Regions from separate parts of the Homo sapiens genome. Here region 1 is linked to region 2. A link means that fine-mapping ties the variant in region 2 to the expression of a gene that starts in the linked region. Tissue or cell type: whole blood. Region 2 holds a variant in brackets; the other region holds the start of a gene. All regions are shown on one strand. Distances are between the middles of the regions.

What was found. PIP is the estimated chance that this variant, and not a neighbour inherited with it, causes the effect.
Region 1: it holds the start of NEURL1B, and the variant in region 2 is fine-mapped to the expression of NEURL1B in whole blood (TOPMed, PIP above 0.99).

Annotation. Positions count from the first base shown.
Region 1 is chr5:172,636,469-172,644,632 of GRCh38, reverse strand. It overlaps NEURL1B (neuralized E3 ubiquitin protein ligase 1B), which reads right to left and starts at 3,370. Exons shown (of 5, transcript NM_001142651.3): 1 at 3,196-3,370. The coding sequence starts at 3,226. It overlaps LOC107986478 (a long non-coding RNA gene), which reads right to left. Exons shown (of 3, transcript XR_001742996.2): 3 at 6,155-8,164. RefSeq lists a silencer at 3,319-3,608.
Region 2 is chr5:172,680,578-172,688,761 of GRCh38, reverse strand. It overlaps NEURL1B (neuralized E3 ubiquitin protein ligase 1B), which reads right to left. Exons shown (of 5, transcript NM_001142651.3): 3 at 4,624-5,343; 4 at 2,466-2,591; 5 at 1-2,081. The coding sequence ends at 1,837. It overlaps LOC107986479 (a long non-coding RNA gene), which reads left to right. Exons shown (of 3, transcript XR_001742997.1): 3 at 2,225-2,457. Among named protein-coding and RNA genes, the nearest start is that of MIR5003, 23 kb to the right of the region's middle. RefSeq lists enhancers at 4,584-5,084, 5,085-5,585. The variant C/G (reference allele first, on the strand shown) is at 4,415.

The DNA of each region.
Region 1 (8,164 bases), 44 kb after region 2:
GAGTGTAGAGCACACAGTAGGAGCTTAGTAGATGTGAGGTCCTGTGCTGCACGTTCTGTTTAAAGGGCATTTCTCTGAATATGCTGATGCACTTTGCAAGAGCTGCCAAGAGGCTTCCGCAATCGATCATAAACAACCTTCCCTTTCTTTGGCATTTCCTTATTGTATAGTGTAGCATGCCACGTGCATGGTGGGGAACCCAATAAATGTTATCTAAATCACGGGCTGGGAGGCCACAGCATGTCAGAATAAGAATGCAGGACTTTGGAGCTAAGTTAACCTAAATTGCAATCCCAGTTCTGCCAACTAGGTGAACTGTGTGAGCTGGGACAAGCCACTTTACCTCTCTGAGCCTCGGCTTCTCAACTGTAATATGGAGATGATAATGCCTACATTGCAGGGATGTTAGAAGAATTAAATTCATCCATTCATCCCATCCAACACGTACTTACTGAACATTTACTCTGTACTAGCCACTGCTCCAGGTGCTAAACGTATAGCAGTGAATAAAACAGACAAAATCTCCCTGGGGGAGACAGACAAGAAACTGCTAACTACACATACAGCGTGTCGCATAGTGACACGTGCTAAGGAGAAACTTAAAGCTGGGTCAAAGGAGTGAGTGGGGTTGGGGCAACAGCAGGCCCCTCGTTCAAGCAGAGACCCCAAGGAAGCCTGGTGGGAGCCATGGGGAGGAGGGCAGAAGAATGTGCCGGGGAGAGGGATCAGGAAGTGCAGAAGCCTTGAGGAGAAGCATGCTTGGCGTGTAAATGAAGCCACATATGCAGGAAGCCTGGCATGGAATCCAGGTGCTCAGCAAATGCCAGCTCTCTATTTCAAGTCCCGCAGAAAGAACCCCACGCATGTGTCCTTTTCCTGAGAACGAAAGCACAAGGATTCTACAGGGCAAGACTGTGCCAAGTGTTCCTTCAGCCTAAGATTCAGGCAACATTCGAGCTCCACCACCAGTTTTTGAGCCCTTGCCAGGCACCAGTCTCTGGGATGGGCAACCAGGGATACAAGATGATCAAGACAAGGGCTCTGTCCTCAGGGAACCGCAAAGAGTCACAGAGACAGGCAGTGACAATGCAGTCATTGCAACGATGAGCAGGAAAGGACTTCAGGCATCCAGATAGCAGAGCAAAGGATGAGACTGTGGGTGGTCAGGGAAAGCTTCCTGGAGGAGGTAACGACAACTGGATTTTGAAAGGCAGACTAGACAAGAAAGGACAATCCATGCATGGGGACCATCACATGCCAAGCACAGAGGTACAAAAAACAGCACAGGGTGTGCAAGAAACTCATACTGGTAGGTCGGAAAACAATTAACGGCCCTTCATATTCTTGGCATCTGCCACCCGATGTGACTCAGGAATTCCGGTTCTGACCCCTTCCTCAAACTCAGTGCAAGCTTCAATCCCCAGAGAAGAGTCTGAATTCCCCATACTTAGACACTGCAGTGGGTAACCAACCTTAACTGCCGGCTCCCAGACTAGGGTGGCCCAGTCCACAGAGAGAGAGTTGAGAGGGATGGAGAATACATAAATCTCTAGCTATATTTAGCCTGCCTGGCGTGTGTCTGTCCCTTTACGCACCCCAGGGCTGACCCACAGGTGGCAGAATGGCTTTTTACTAGAATAGTATAAACATTTTTAAATTAAGAAACCAAGGAAAGGGGCCTGTGCCGAGGTGCCTCATCCCAGTGTCTATGTGGCGAGAATATCTGCTGCCCTATTTGCCAACATCCCCAGATATCTCCTGACCCGCGGGTGGGTTCTCCCCCAACCTGGCAATAGCCCTGTCCACAGGAGGTAGAGGCCACCCTCCAGTAAGCAGACCTGGGTTCTAATCCCACCTCTGCCACTGACTAGCTGGTGACTCTGCTGATGATTACAGCTCTCTGGGAATTTGAACGTTTGAGTGCAGTTGCTCAGAGGCTTGTAAAGTAGGAGTTGGCTCCTCTTCCATAAGCTGACCCTGGGAATCCTGGGCTCAGCACTGTCCACTTCAACCCGCTCCAGGGGAAATTATTCTTTAAGAGCATGTAATGCCTAGAAGGGAGAGCTATATGGGAGTGTTATAGCAGAGATGGGGTGATATGTCCCTCTTCCAGAACCTCACACTAAATTAACCTCACAGCTGACTTGCTTCCCCATTGAGCCGAGCCTTTGTGCTTTAGACACACACACACTCCTCTCACCTTTTGCCCAAAGGATGCTACAAAGGCCCAGCCTTAAGACAAAATACTTCTAAATACTTGGGCGTGTGAGGGGAGGGAGGGCAGAGAGACACAGGTCCCACTCCAGATTCTCCCACTACTAGCTGTGTGACCTTGGGTGAGTCATTTCACCTCTTCTGACACTCAATTTTTTTATTTGTAAAACTGGGATACACATCTTTATCGCGAAGCTTCTTTGCATACCGAGCTGGGGTATGCAAAGTGCTGGGCACTGAACCTCCACGGGCACGCGCGGGCGCGGGACCGCTGATCTGTTCCCACAATTACCATGTATTTTCCAGTAAGGCCTCCTCCTACCCCGTTAACCTGCTCCGGATCCCCTCACTCCGGTCCCAGAAATTCTGGGGCGATTTTAACTAGGGGGCGATGCGATCTGCAGCAGCGACTCCGAGGGGGCGAAGGAGTCCCCAGTGGAGCGGACACCAGAGGGGGGCGCAACCGGGGTGCGCGTGGGAACGTGGCCAAAGCACGGCAGCATGTGCCGCGGGGGCGCTGGGAGGCTGGAAACTGGGGTGCCCCTGAGAGCACCCCTCACTCTCGGCAGCTGCAGTCTTGGCACCACGGGTGGCTTCTGACCGTCGGAAGCCCTGGCGAGCCCGGCTCCAGTCACCCCCACCCAGGTCGCCTTGAGTTTGCTCATCAGCGCCCTCGGGCTGGAACAAAGGCGAGGGGGCGCGCGGCATCGCCCCAGCGGCCCTTTTTGCGCATCTGGCCAAAGCCGGGAGAATGAGGACTGGGGTCCCCAAGGTAACCAGGACGCGGTACCCGCCCTCCCGGGGCGCAAAGCCCAGCCGCGGGGCGCGCGCCGAGCTGAGGTCCGGGAGGTACCGGAGACTCCAGCCCGCTGCGAGCCGAGGGCTCCAAGGGCCGTGGGGTAGCTCTCCAGAGTCACCCAGCGGGTCCCCCGGAGGAGAGAAGCCCGGCGCCCGCCTCCCGGGCAGGGCTCCCCGGCGTACCTGGCAGGGTCCGGTGCACCGTGTTGCCCATCGCTGCGTCGGGCGCGGCGTTGGCGGCGGCGCGCTCTGGGCGCGCGGAGGCTAATTACGCGGCGGGCCAGGGACCAGGACCGGGGTCGACGCTCCGGGGCATCGCAGCTGCACGGGCGAGCCGGCGGGCGGCAGCTGGGGCGGGAGCCGGGAGGGAGGCGGCGGCGGCGCCTGCGGGAGGAGGAGGCGGAGCCACCGGCCCGGGCCCGCCGGCTCCGCCCCCGCCTCCCACCGCCTCCAACAGTGCAGGGGCGGGGCCGCGGCCGCCGCATCTTTTGAAAGTTTGCACCAGGCGGCGGGAGAAGCACAGCCAAGCCTCCCGCCCTCGCCGCTCCCGCGCCCGGGCCGGGAAGGCGCGCAGGGCAGCTGGGTGCCCTCGGGTGCCAGGATCGGCAGTCTGCTGGCCTGTCACCCATTTGTTCTAACACTTTGAGAAGGCCCACTGTGTGCCAGGCCCTCTTCCAGGCGCGGGGCCCCAGCCGGCCGAGTCCTAGCCCCGGCAGACCTCTTTGGAGAGTGCTTCGGCCCCGGGGGAACTTACACAGAGGCAGACGGGCCCCTGGGACCATGTAAAGGGCTTGGAGACAGTACACCCAGGGTTCCCGGGTTTGGGTGGAGTCTTTTCTATCCCCTAGGCCAGGTACCGAGGAATAGAAGAAACCCAGTGTCCAAAGATTGGGAAGAGGGAACCCACATTCATTAATTTATTCGCTCATTCACTAAAATATTTATTGAGCACAGTCTATGCACCAGGCACTGTGCTGGGCCGGGTAGATACAGACAAGGTCCCCACTGCCCTGGAGATGGCATGCTGAAGATAGAAATAACAAGCAATTACGATCACATTATATAATAATCAAAGCCAGGAAGAAAATAAAACAGATCCCAGTAGAGTGAGGAGATGACATTGTTTGGGGGCATAGGGAGAATCTGGGGTGGGGGCACATAAGCTCCATCTGATGGACTAGAAGGCGTCGGCCATGAGAAGAGATAGGTAGAGTGTTCCTGGCAGAGGCAGTAACAGGCATTCCTCATTCAGGCACCTGGACCACACTCAGTGGGAAGTGCAGCTGTGCCCTTCTCGAGCTCCATTTCACAGGCTGGAACGCTGAGGCCCAGGAAGTGCAATGACTTCCCCAAGAAGACCCGATTCCAAATGAGCTGTTTTTTTCAATTCTATTTTTCATGCTCTTGTATCCCTTGAGACTTTATGAAATATGTATTATTACTTCCATTTCACAGATAGGGAAATTGAGGCTCTGAGAGTGGAAGAGAGGTGCCCAAGATCTTCCAATGGTACAGGGCAAAGCTAGCCTGAAGCTATGCGAATAAAAGCGGGGTATTCAGGAGACAGCCTTCTGCATCTCCGGTGCCTTCTGCTTACAGTACATGACCCATCCCAGAGGGTTCTAGGGTCTTTAAGGCCAGCTCCAAGCTTCCACTTCCGGGAAACCTTGATTCCCCACTCCCCCCTGACGTCATATGTCTGAACATAAGATTGCCTTGCATTTGAGTTACTAATTTCTCATATTACAGGTGCTCGCCCAGTGACTTAATTTTTAACCCCAAAGTTCTGTTTGAGAAAGGTCCGTTAGCGTGATCCTTTTTTTTTTTCTTTTTTTTTTTGAGACAGAGTCTCACTCTGTCACCCAGGCTGGAGTGGAATGGCACAATCTTGGCTCACTGCAACCTCTGCCTACCAAGTTCAAGCAATTCTCCTGCCTCAGCCTCTTGAGTAGCTGGGATTACAGGCACCCACTACCACGCCCCGCTAATTTTTGTATTTTTAGTAGAGATGGGATTTCATCATGTTGGCCAGGCTGGTCTCAAACTTCTGACCTCAAGCGGTTCCCCCACCTCAGCCTCCCAAAGTGCTGGGATTACAGGCCTAAGCCACCTCACCTGGCTGATCCTCCTTTAATCTATGTGACATTGGGTTGCATATGGAGGTCAGCAATATTATAAAGGGAATTGAGGGAATTTTCCTCAGATAAGGCAATGCAAACAAATATGACTTTGTGACGGCAAGGGTGAGAGGTTGTGAACAGGCCTTTTAAAGGCCACTTTCAGAGTACCTCAGTAAGTGGCCATGTTGTGCAGATCACAAATACTCACCTGCAGCAAATGAATCCCTACTGTCAAAATGTGATGCGGATTGGACCTGCGGTGGAGACACTGTGCCCAGCAGTTGCCTGACATGTGGATTCGAAAGGGCTGTGTGTTAGCCTCTGGATCTCTGAGAGTAGGACCTGCTCTAGTAAAAAGCTGCCCCCAACACACACGATGGTGACACTAGTGTCAAAGCCACACAGAAAAGAATTAGAATCAAATTGTTTCCTGAAATTTGAAACTGCCAAAAGCAATCTTTCCATATTAGTATTCTCTATGAGAATAATTGCAAATATGTTTATATAACTAAAGTAATAAATGAAATATTTCAAGTAGATGTCTATTTCATCTTCACCCCATTAAGTTTATATTATTCAATAAGAAAGTGCATCTTCTCATAGGGAGAATGGGGATTGCCTGTAATCTTTACTTGGATTACCTTATATTTGGGCACATACAGCAGTTGCTCACCCATCTGAGATCCCTCTGCACTTTGTGCTGTCCCCTCAATTACACCCTCAAGACAGGTGTTGTAGCTGTTACCTTTGCGTCCTCTCCACTGCCAGACAGGATGCTCCTGCAGGCAGGAAGAAGGCTGTAATCATCTAGGAAACCCCAGTGCCCAGAACAGGGCTGGCAGACACAGGTGCTCAATACACATTTGCATAAATTGACTGCAGAGATGCATTGCCCTGAGCTGAGAGAAAAACAGAAAAGAAGGAGAGAGGGAAGAAAGAAGGAATGGAGAAAGGTAATAAGAAGGGAGAGGAGAGAAAGAGCTGTGAGAGAATGAGTTTTTGCCATTAGTAGCCCTAGACCCTGGTGTGATGAATAGTAATATGTGCAGGGAAAAATAAGCAAATGAGCAAAATAGGGATGCATTAACAGAAATATAGTCTTTAGGACAAAGGAGGGGCTTGCTGCTCCAGTGCATGTTGGTTAGACCATTCCAGAAGTCGCTTTGGCTCTGGGCACCACACTAGAGAAGGAGGACAAAGCTAGTCCACGAAGGTGGAAGGGTGGCTTTGGGAGAGAGGGAGATCCCTGTCCCAGGAGGTGTGCAAATAGAAACCATATATTTCCTGCCAGGCAGTTGAGGAGGGGCTTCCTGAGTCACATGTCTTCTAAAGTATACCTTCCAGTACAATCATCCACTGAGCCCCTACAACCCACATGAAGCCATGGGGGTGATTTATGGTTTGAGGTTTATGAGTCTGATTGGTCCTGCCTCTACTGACCCTGAGAGGACTGCAGAGGTGCTCCCCTGTCTTTGCAGCTTGTGTACCAAGCTGATCTCCTGGGATGTGGGCCTCCCATTTTTGTTGCCTCTCCCAATCTCACCTCTTCCCACTAGCTCCCAAGCAGGGCTGGCCGGGACACTGTGGAAATGCTGTCTGCATGTATTAGGGGCCTGGGATCCAGGCACTATGTCTAACAGCAACAAGGGAAGGGAAGGGACTGTTGGACTCAGCACCTGCCGCACAGGAGACTTTATAACCACAGGGATGGAATGTGAATCTCTTCCTTCTCCAAATATTATAGTCATACCACATCCAAGGAGATAGGTTCTAGCATCCCCATTTTCCAAACGAGGACACCAAGCCTCAGACAGGTAAAGTCACATGCCTAAGTCTCTGCAGCTGCTAAGAGGAGTTGGGATGTGAACCTACGTGTGCCCATATCCAAGCCTCATCTTCTAAGCAGTGTCCCTTAAAGTTAGAGAGGACAGCTCTGCCCAGGCGCCAAGGCGGCAGGACACCAGGGCTGCAGAGGAACGGGTGGGGTCTCAGAACCAGAACCCGCAGACACTAACGGCTGCCATAGAGCCTGTGGGGCAGAGCATGGGGTGGGGACATCTTCCGGCCCGGGCAGCAGCCTCCAGTCACAGCAGCTCCTGGATTTGACTTTCACACACATACACATCTCTACCAATCACATCCAGAATTGCACAGACTGTGCCACCCTCCTTTAGCACCAGTACCCATACATGGGCTGCAGGGGCCTCTGGGTGGGGCTGTCTCTCTTGATTATGCAGCGTCAGCAGAGCCTCCCGGGGCAGTTGGTAGTGGGAGTGCCCTGGCCGGGCTCCCTGGCATTGCTCCCTGGGGGCATGCCCTGGCAGGCCCTGCCCCATGCAATAACAGGCAATCAGGTGCATGTTGTAAAAAGGGTGCACACTGAGCTGCTGTGCCAGGCTAGGGGGTATGCCCACTGCAGATACCTGCGTGAAATGACCCCTTCCTTCAGGGTGTTTGCCCAGCCTCCTCCTCACAACTCAAGAGCCGAGTATCTGCAGTCACACTGCAAAGCTCGGTTTTAAAATGGCTGCAGGAAGGCTGTGCTTTTCTACAAACCCTGACTACGAAACCTTCAATTTCCAACAGATCTTTACCTGAAAAAGCATCATTTTTCAGTTGCTGGTTACAAAGTGCCAGCCGCATAGTGGGCCCCACGCTACACCCTCTGAGTGATCCTTGTCCCAGCATGGCGGCATGGTCATTAACACAAGTCAATTCCCATTTTGCAGGAGAGGAAGCTGAAGCTCAGAGATGGAAAAGAGCTGCCCAGGTCACACAGCTAGAAGGGGGCAGAACTCAGAGGGTTCTTAGTCCTCTCTGCAGAGGAAACAAGCTCCGGTGATGAGGCCACTTGCTTGATGTAGCACAGCAGTGAGCAGAGGAGCCAGGAGCCGGCATCCCTCGGGCTTCAAAACCAGCGCTCCAATAGCAAAGTCATTGAACCAAACTAAGTGTCCATCAACAGTTGATTTGACAAAGAAAATGTGGTACATATACACTGTGGAATACCATGCAGCCATAAAAAAGGATGA
Region 2 (8,184 bases):
CACTGTGGTTCCAAAAGCTGCTCAAAAGATTCTGCTGCAAAATTAAAATGTGGGAATTTCCCCAGATTTTCTAGGGAAAAGTAAATAATCAGGGATTCTTGATGGGGCAAGAGAGTGGGGACCTTAAGTTGGAATCAGGTCAGACAACTGTGATTACTCCCAGCTAGAGGAGGAACAGGAGGCCCCAAACCACCAGCAGCGCATGGGCACCAGCTGGTCTGTGGGGCTTGATCTGGTGAAGGCCTGGCCCAGCTTTGCTCTGGGCACCCAGACACCCAGCAGTGTTTGTTATATGAATGCATCAACTCCCCTGCCTTCCTCTCCCTCCTTCCCTCCTTCAGCAGGACATGAACAGATTAGGAATTGTACTCCAAATGATACTTGCTTTTTGTAAGGCGTCTCAGGCTTTTTAGAACGTTGTACTGGTCCTCCCAAGAACTCCTGGAGTTGTCAGGTTCTAGACTTCTAATTGGGAACTGAAAAATAGACAGGCCAAGGGACTTCCCTAATGGGACAGCACAGAAGAGGGCAGAGGTGGAGCCCAGAACTGGGGGCAAGAAGGGAGGGACAGGCCTGGGCCAGCCCATCAGCCCAGATGTGATCTGGGAGTCTGCAGAGATGGGCACGGCTGAGGGGGTGGGGCAGGGTCAAGGTCCCAGGAAATACCAGCAGGTAGGTCTGGGAAGGGAGAGAATCCCAGTGCCAGCATTTTTCGTTACTGTCTCGATCATTAGTTAACATACTTATCAGTGAACACTTTAGTAACCAGCGGAGGAAGATACACTGAGAATCAGAACAAAGACCAAAAGTTATAACCAAAGTTATAAAGCCCTCGTTCCTCCTCCTGCCAGCAGGTCCCCTGGGAATGCCAGGCCCAGGGGCCACCACAGGAAGGTAGAGAGCTGTCTGCATCGTGGAGTGGGCTTTCCAGCTCCAGGTGGGTCACCTGCCTCTAGGATTCTTTCTCTCCCACAGAAAAACAGAACTTACTGCTGGTCTTCTCCTTGGAGATAGGGAAGGGCATTACAGAGACTTGCCTCCAGAGACGGAGACAAGGTATGATGTGTGTATTATTAGACAGTCTGGGGGTGAAGGGGTGAAAAGATGACACAATCCAGAGGGGTTGGCCTCGGTGCCCATCACACCCAGCTCTAAGACCCAGTAAGAAATGAAGAAGTGAATTGTTCTTCACCCACCTTCCCCTCAAGGAGTTCATGCTTTGGAGCTGTAAACAATGAGTTATTTTTGCCTCCCCTTAGAAAATCTGAGCATCTCTTTTCTACACCACCCCAGGGAGTTCTGTGAGGGTCAGCTTCATACATTCAAAACCAGCTTATGTCCCATCCCCAGAAAGTGAACAACTTCTAGTCATGCCAATGTCGGGGCTCCGGATTGCACGTCTCCTCCCGGAGCCGGGACCCCTGGTAAAATCGCTACACGTTCATTCTCTCTCTCTCTCTCTCACACACACATTCTCTCTGTTCTCCCTCCCTCCCCTCCCCTTCTCTCACACTCAACCCAACCCCAGCAAGAAGCATTGCACAGACAGAGGACGCTGTTTCCCAGTTGAAAGGTCACCAAGGGACAGGGTGATCTGCCAGGCAGTTCCTGAGCTTGCTCTTGGGACGGCCTTTTGGGGGCAAAGCACTTTGGAGCCAGAAGCAACCCCTGCCTGGGCTGAGGCCCTGTGGGCCTCGCTCCACGACTGTCACACCTTGCCCACCACTGGAGAGATGGCCGCTGCCCGTGGACTCCCTGGCAGCCATGTGGTTGCCCAGCCCAGGGGGCCTTCAGAAAGGTGACCTTGCACCGGCCAAGGCCCGTGGGCAGGCTAGGCTATGGCCTGTAGATCTTAATGACGTCCTTGATGGGCCGCCGGCAGATGGGGCAGCAGGCCCGGGCCTGTCGCTTGAGCCGCAGGCCGCAGCTGTGGCACAGGCACATGTGTCCACACGTGTAGATGACCGTGTCCACCTCGCCATCGAAGCACACCGTGCACTCGCCATTCTTGATGCCTGCCGGCTCCGGTGGGGAGAACACGGGGGACACCGGGGGGCTCAGCGGGGAGCTGGGGGCCGTCACTGCCGAAAGGGAGAAGAGGACATATGTTAACAATGTCTCTCTCAGGTGGGCTCTGTTGGGGCAACCCCGAGAATGCAGGGCTTCTTGCTGGGACCGGTGGGAGAATACTTTTGGGAGATACTAATTTGAGTTTACCTTGCAGGTTTTGCACCTTTCTCTACTCTTCTACTCCCAAACACCAAGATAAAATGCCACCATCGTCACCCTTTGGAATGCCCTATCTAGACACTTCTCCTCCCTCCAGCTGAGCATACAGCTGAGGGAAGGAGAGGATGCGGGGGAAAGGCGGCCACCCTGCTCAGTCCCTGGAAGGCCACTGGCACAGCCGGAGGAGCCAGGCCAGCCGCCAGCCCCTGCCCCTGCCAGGGTTTGCATTTCCTTACCCAGGGATGACTCAGATGCCGAGGAGGACTGGTTGACACTGAAGGTCATATCTGAATCACTATCGTCCTGGGAGCCGCTGAGGGACCCTGATGGAGTCGTGGTCGCAGGGCTGGACTGCAGGGTACCTGAGGCCCAAAGAGATTCCATCAGGGGCAGTGGAAGGTTGGACCTGCCCTGCTAGTCCATGGTTCTTCACTGCTTTGCACCTTAGCTTTCCCGTCTAACGAGAGGACCAGAGGTATCTCCCAGGGTTCTGCTGAGGAGTGAAGAGTGCATCCCAGTGTGGTGCCTCTGTTCTTTGTCTACCAGGCCTCTATTCTCTTCTCTTTCAGAAACAGCCCTGGGATGTTCTTTTGGGATACTAATGTGCCCTCCCTCATAGGATAAGGGCCAGGCCAACAGGAACTTCCACTCTCTGGTCTCAATAGTGGTGGTTCAGGAAAGGGCACATAACCCCCGTAAGGCCCGAGACCCAATTCTGCAACTTTTACTGGAACTACTAGGAAAGAAGGAACTCATTCCATTCATTGGGAAGGAAGCCTGGAGCTGGAAGAGCCAACCCGTGGCAAAGGCCTGCCTGAGAGTGATGCCAACACAGAGGCAAGCAGAGCTTTGAGTTGGAAAGAGAGGTAGGATCCTGCTGATATCCTTCCAGTACCTAGATCCAGCTATTCCTGAACTCACCCAATATACTCCCAGACATTTCCTTTTTTGCTTAGGGCACTTTGAGTGGGGTTTTGCCCCTTGCGAGAAGATCCCTGACTACTAGTGCTCAACATGGATGAGTTTTCTTCCCCAAGCTTGCTGTTGGTTCAGACAATAACAGCTTGTTTCTTAGGATGAAAAGATGCCCCTTCCCTTGCCCTACCTGAGGATGAATGGACAGATAATGGGCACTTCGTCTCGGGCTGAAATGATGACTATGTCTGATGGTTCCTCAAAAACACAAAACAACACAACTTCCCCCTCCCCAAAAAACACTCTGACCAAATAACCACACTGCCACCCGGCTCCTCCTCTGCCCTCATGAAGACAGCAACAGCTGCTGTTGTTACTGTTACCACTGATTAAACCAGTGTCAGGCCCCGCTCAAGGCATTATATGCACATGATTTCATCCTCATGACAACCCCATGAAGCAGGTATCACTCTCTTTCTACAGAAGGAAACAGGCTCAGGAGAATCTGTGATTTGTCCAGCATCTTCAAAGCTGACCAGCGATGTGACCCTGGGATAGTCATTTAATCTCTCTGTGCTCATTATCTTATCTGTAGGTGGGGATAATGATACTGATTTCAATAGAGTCAAAGGGAGGATAAAATTCAATGAGGGAACATATGAGCTGTTGACTGCTTCTTATTGCTTGGACTCTACTTTTTGAGCCATGAAGTTGGAGCCAGGCTCTCTGGGAAGCCTTCTCTGAACATCTCCTTCACTCCACCAAGCTGGGAGAGGAGCCCCCGGCTGTAGCAAATGTCACACCGTGCAACTCTCCTTTAGGGTGTCTGTGAGCTCCTAACCGGCATGGAGTGTGTCCTGTCCTCTGCTGGCCCTATCCTGGTGCCCAGGGCCCGGCCCACAGCTGGTGGCTGCTCCTGCCTATTTGTGGCATGAATGAAGGCAAAAATTATCTCAAAATAGGATGGTTCAGGCCTCCATTCCACTTTCTGTGGACGATACTATTCTTATTTCCTCTTTCATGTGCAGTCGAATTTATTTTTTCCCTACACTTACTGTGCATTACATGTTAAAAACACCCTAATGTAACAAATCGTAACAACGGAACTAAAAATCGCACCGACCATTTACCGAGGGGATATAGCCTGCCAAGCTCGGAGATAAGCCGGTTACCTATCTAGGTCGGTGGTTTACAAAATGTGGTCCAGAGAGCCGCAACGTCAGCATCTCCGGGCACTTGTCGGAAATGCACGTTCTCGGGGCGCACCGTG[C/G]ACCCACTGAATCCGGAACTCTGGGGTGGAGTCCGGCAATTTTGGACGGGGTGGATCGTGCCCGGGCGCTTAAAGTTGGGAACCGCGGGCTGGCCTCGGGCGGTGCAGCGCCTAGCGAGAGGGGCGGGGCCGGGGAAGAGCGCAGCGGGGTGAGACGGCACGGGACGGGGGAGGGGCGGGGCCTCGCGCACGCGGGGCCGGGGACTCACCGAGGAGACGCAGCTGGCCCGCGACGCCGCCGCGCACGGCGAAGAAGGCCCAGAGCGCCTGCGTGGTGTCGACGCACAGCAGGCGGCCGCGCGGACGCCCGTTGATGCCCAGGAGCACGTCGCCGCCGGGCCGCAGCGTGAAGCTGAGCGCGTCGCCGCCGCTCGGCACGGGCCCGGCGCGCGCCACCACCCAGTACTCTTTGCGGTCGAGCAGCGCGTCTGGGTCGGCGGGCAGCTCGTTGGGCCGTAGCACGCCCGGGTCGCACGACGTGATGCCGAAGGCCAGCGCGCCGGGCGCCGCCAGCCCCGGACGGCCCACCTCCACGAAGAGGCTCTCGCCGGGCCGCAGCGGGCGCTCGGAGAAGACCAGCGTGCGGCCGCCGTCGGGCCGCGGTGCGCAGGCCACTTTGCGGTCGGCCGACAGGCTCACGTCGGGCCCGCGTGTTGCGTGGAAGCGCAGGTCGGCCTCCAGTAGCGCCGGCGACGACGCGGGCCGCGGGCGCTCACGGGGCCCGCACGGAATGGCGGCGGCCGCGGCGTCGGCTGGCGGTGGGCCCGGGGCGCGGCCCAGCGCCAGGTGGCCCAGCTTGGCCACCACCTGGTTGTTCTCGAGCTCGTTGTTGTCGAAGTTGGCCGCGTCGTGGCTGCTGGGCGGCAGGCAGGCGCTGAAGCGGGCCTGGCTGAGGCGCGCGGGCGTCAGCGTGTCAGCGAAGGCGCTCTCTGTGCGGACAAAGGGAGGGACATGGAGGGGGAGAGGCCGCGCGTCAGGCTGGTCGCGAGCCCCTCCTCGCCCGCTGCCTCCTGCAGGCCTCCACGACCGACCCGGGCCTCGAGCAGCCCCCACCCCACCCCGGCTTCGAACTCTCCTTTTGTCCATCTGTGTTATTTAGTGAGTCACAGGAGCACAGAATTGCATTAAGCACCATCCTCGGTTTCCTTGACATGCTCTTACCTTTGGGAGCGGCAGATAAGGCCCTTTTTCCCCTGCCTCCTCCTTTCTCTTCTTCCATCCCTCCTTTTCTCTCCACCCTTTCCCCTTCTCTCCCTCTTTCCGAGGTTTCCATACTTTGATCATTAAAAGGGCATCTAAAAATCGTTTATTGTCCGTCTCCCCAACTAGAACATAAGCTCCAATAAAAAGAGCAAACCTGTACTCGTGGCCTTACGCAACGGGCACTTCTAAGCTTTCGCGCGCTACCTCATTTAATTTACACAACCACTCTGTGAGGCATGTACGGTTACTGCCTGCTATTGAGCTCACAGGGAAACTGAGGCACAGAGGGGTTGGGGAACATGACCAAGGGCACATGGCTACTAAGTGGCAAAGCCCCGACTTGAACCCATGAGTTGAACCCAGGCTGTCTGGCTCTAGAGTCTGGGCTCTTCAACACATGCTGCCTCTGAAAGAAGGGAGGACCTGGGTCTGTCCTCACTGCTGTGTTCACAGCACAGAGCACAGTGCCTGGCCCTGGATAGGTGTTTAAGCATTGACAGAAAAAAGTCTACGGGAGATTGAGTCAGTTGATAAAACTAAATGAAGGGAAAAGAAATTTTTTTTTTTTGAGATAGAGTTCCGCTCTTGTCACCCAGGCTGGAGTGCAATGGCGCGATCTCGGCTCACTGCAACCTCTGCCTCCTGGGTTCAAGTGATTCTCCTGCCTCAGCCTCCCGAGTAGCTGGGATTACAGGTGCCTGCCACCACTCCCGGCTTAATTTTTGTATTTTTAGTAGAGACGGAGCTTTGCCATGTTGGCCAGGCTGGTCCTGAACTCCTGACCTCAAGTGATCTGCCCACCTTGGCCTCCCAAAGTGCTGGGATTATAGGCGTGAGTCAGCACGCCCGGCCGAAGGGAAAGTTCTTTAAAAGTTACAGTTATGAAAATATTTTAAAGTACTTTTTAGTGATTTGAAAAAATGTTCTTCATATGACATAGGTAAAAAAGCAAAAATAGTGTTTATCATTTGGGTAATACAGGTATTCGTACTTTAGTAGATTACCTGTTTATTTTCTGCCTCCCTAGCTGGAATATGAGTCTCTTGAGGGCAGGGTCTGTGTCAGTCTGGTCACCACCATGTTCTCAGGGCTTGGCAAATAGCCTTCACTATTAATAGTTTATTGGATGAATGAAGGAACGACTAAGGTCTAGAAGAGACTGCTATGCTAAATAACAACAACATCAGGAAAGAGTCATTAAAATATTGTGAAGGTGTTTTTTAGTGATACAAACATTTTTGTTTACCATAATAGGAAAATAAGTGTTTTAGACTTTTTAAACAGACCACTTTGAGCCAAGATTTTGTTAAATGTTACCATTCTATAGTGTCTTGAAAAATATTTCCTCTTTAGTTTTCCAAATATGAAATGAAATCATAAGAATGCACATGCTTTTTCGAATTATGCCCCAGGCCCCGGTGGGTCCAAATGCACCCCCTCAGACACCTTTCACTTAAACTGGATTTATAGCACTTGGGAAACCAGTAAATCTGGCAGTAGGACCTGAATTCTGCCCTGGCCACAATGGGCTAAAGAAGCTTGCCCTTGTATTGAGGTGGTTTGATCTCTCTTGATGTGCCTGAGGTGGCCCTCTTCAAGGTCTCAGCAAAAGGGGTCAGCTACTTGTTTGGACTCTGGGCATCTGAGTGTGTATGCTTTGCCTTAGCGAGGGTGCTTCCCATAGCTCGAGGGAAGAAGTGGGGTTTCAGTTTGTTTCTTTAAAAAAGTACATATGTGTGCATTTGTCTACATCTGTCTGTATCATTTTATTTATGTGCATAGGAAATCAAGTGATGGAGAGACAAAATATTAATAGTAATTATCTCTTGGGGTGAGATCATGAAGGACTTTTCTTTAGATTTTTCTGTATTATCTAGTTTTCCTTCAATAAACTTGTATGCTACTGATATGGTTTGGATTTGTGTCCACCCAAATCTCATGTCAAATTGTAATCCCTAGTGTTGGAGGTGATTGGATCATAGGAGTGGACTTCCCCTTTGCTCTTCTCATGATAGCGAGTTCTCACGAGATCTGGTTGTTGAGAAGTGTAGCACCTCCCCCACTTCACACTCTTCCTCCCTCTCTGGCCGAGTAAGCTGTGCCTACTTCCCCTTCACCTTCTGCCATGATTGTAAGTTTCCTAAGGCTTCCCCAGCCGTGCTTCCTGTACAGCCTGCGGAACCAAGAGCTAATTAAACCTCTTTCTTTTACAAATTATCCAGTCTCAGGTGGTTCTTTATAGCAGTTCAAGAACAGACTAATACAGCTACAAATTTTTATGGGAAAAAATATTTTTAAAAATTGAGTTTTCAATTAATATTTAATAATATGGGAAAATACCTATGATATAACATCAAATGAACAAAACATTCAAAACTGAACACATGGTTTGATTCTACTTTTGTGGAAAATGTGTGCATAGGATTCATAGGAAAAATATAGAAATACATTAAAATGTGAGTGGTTATCTCTGGGTAGAAATTTGCTTCTTATAGTTTTCTAGTTTTCTCTTTTTCTCTAATGAACATAAATTGATTTTTATAATCAGAAAAAAGGCATATAAATAA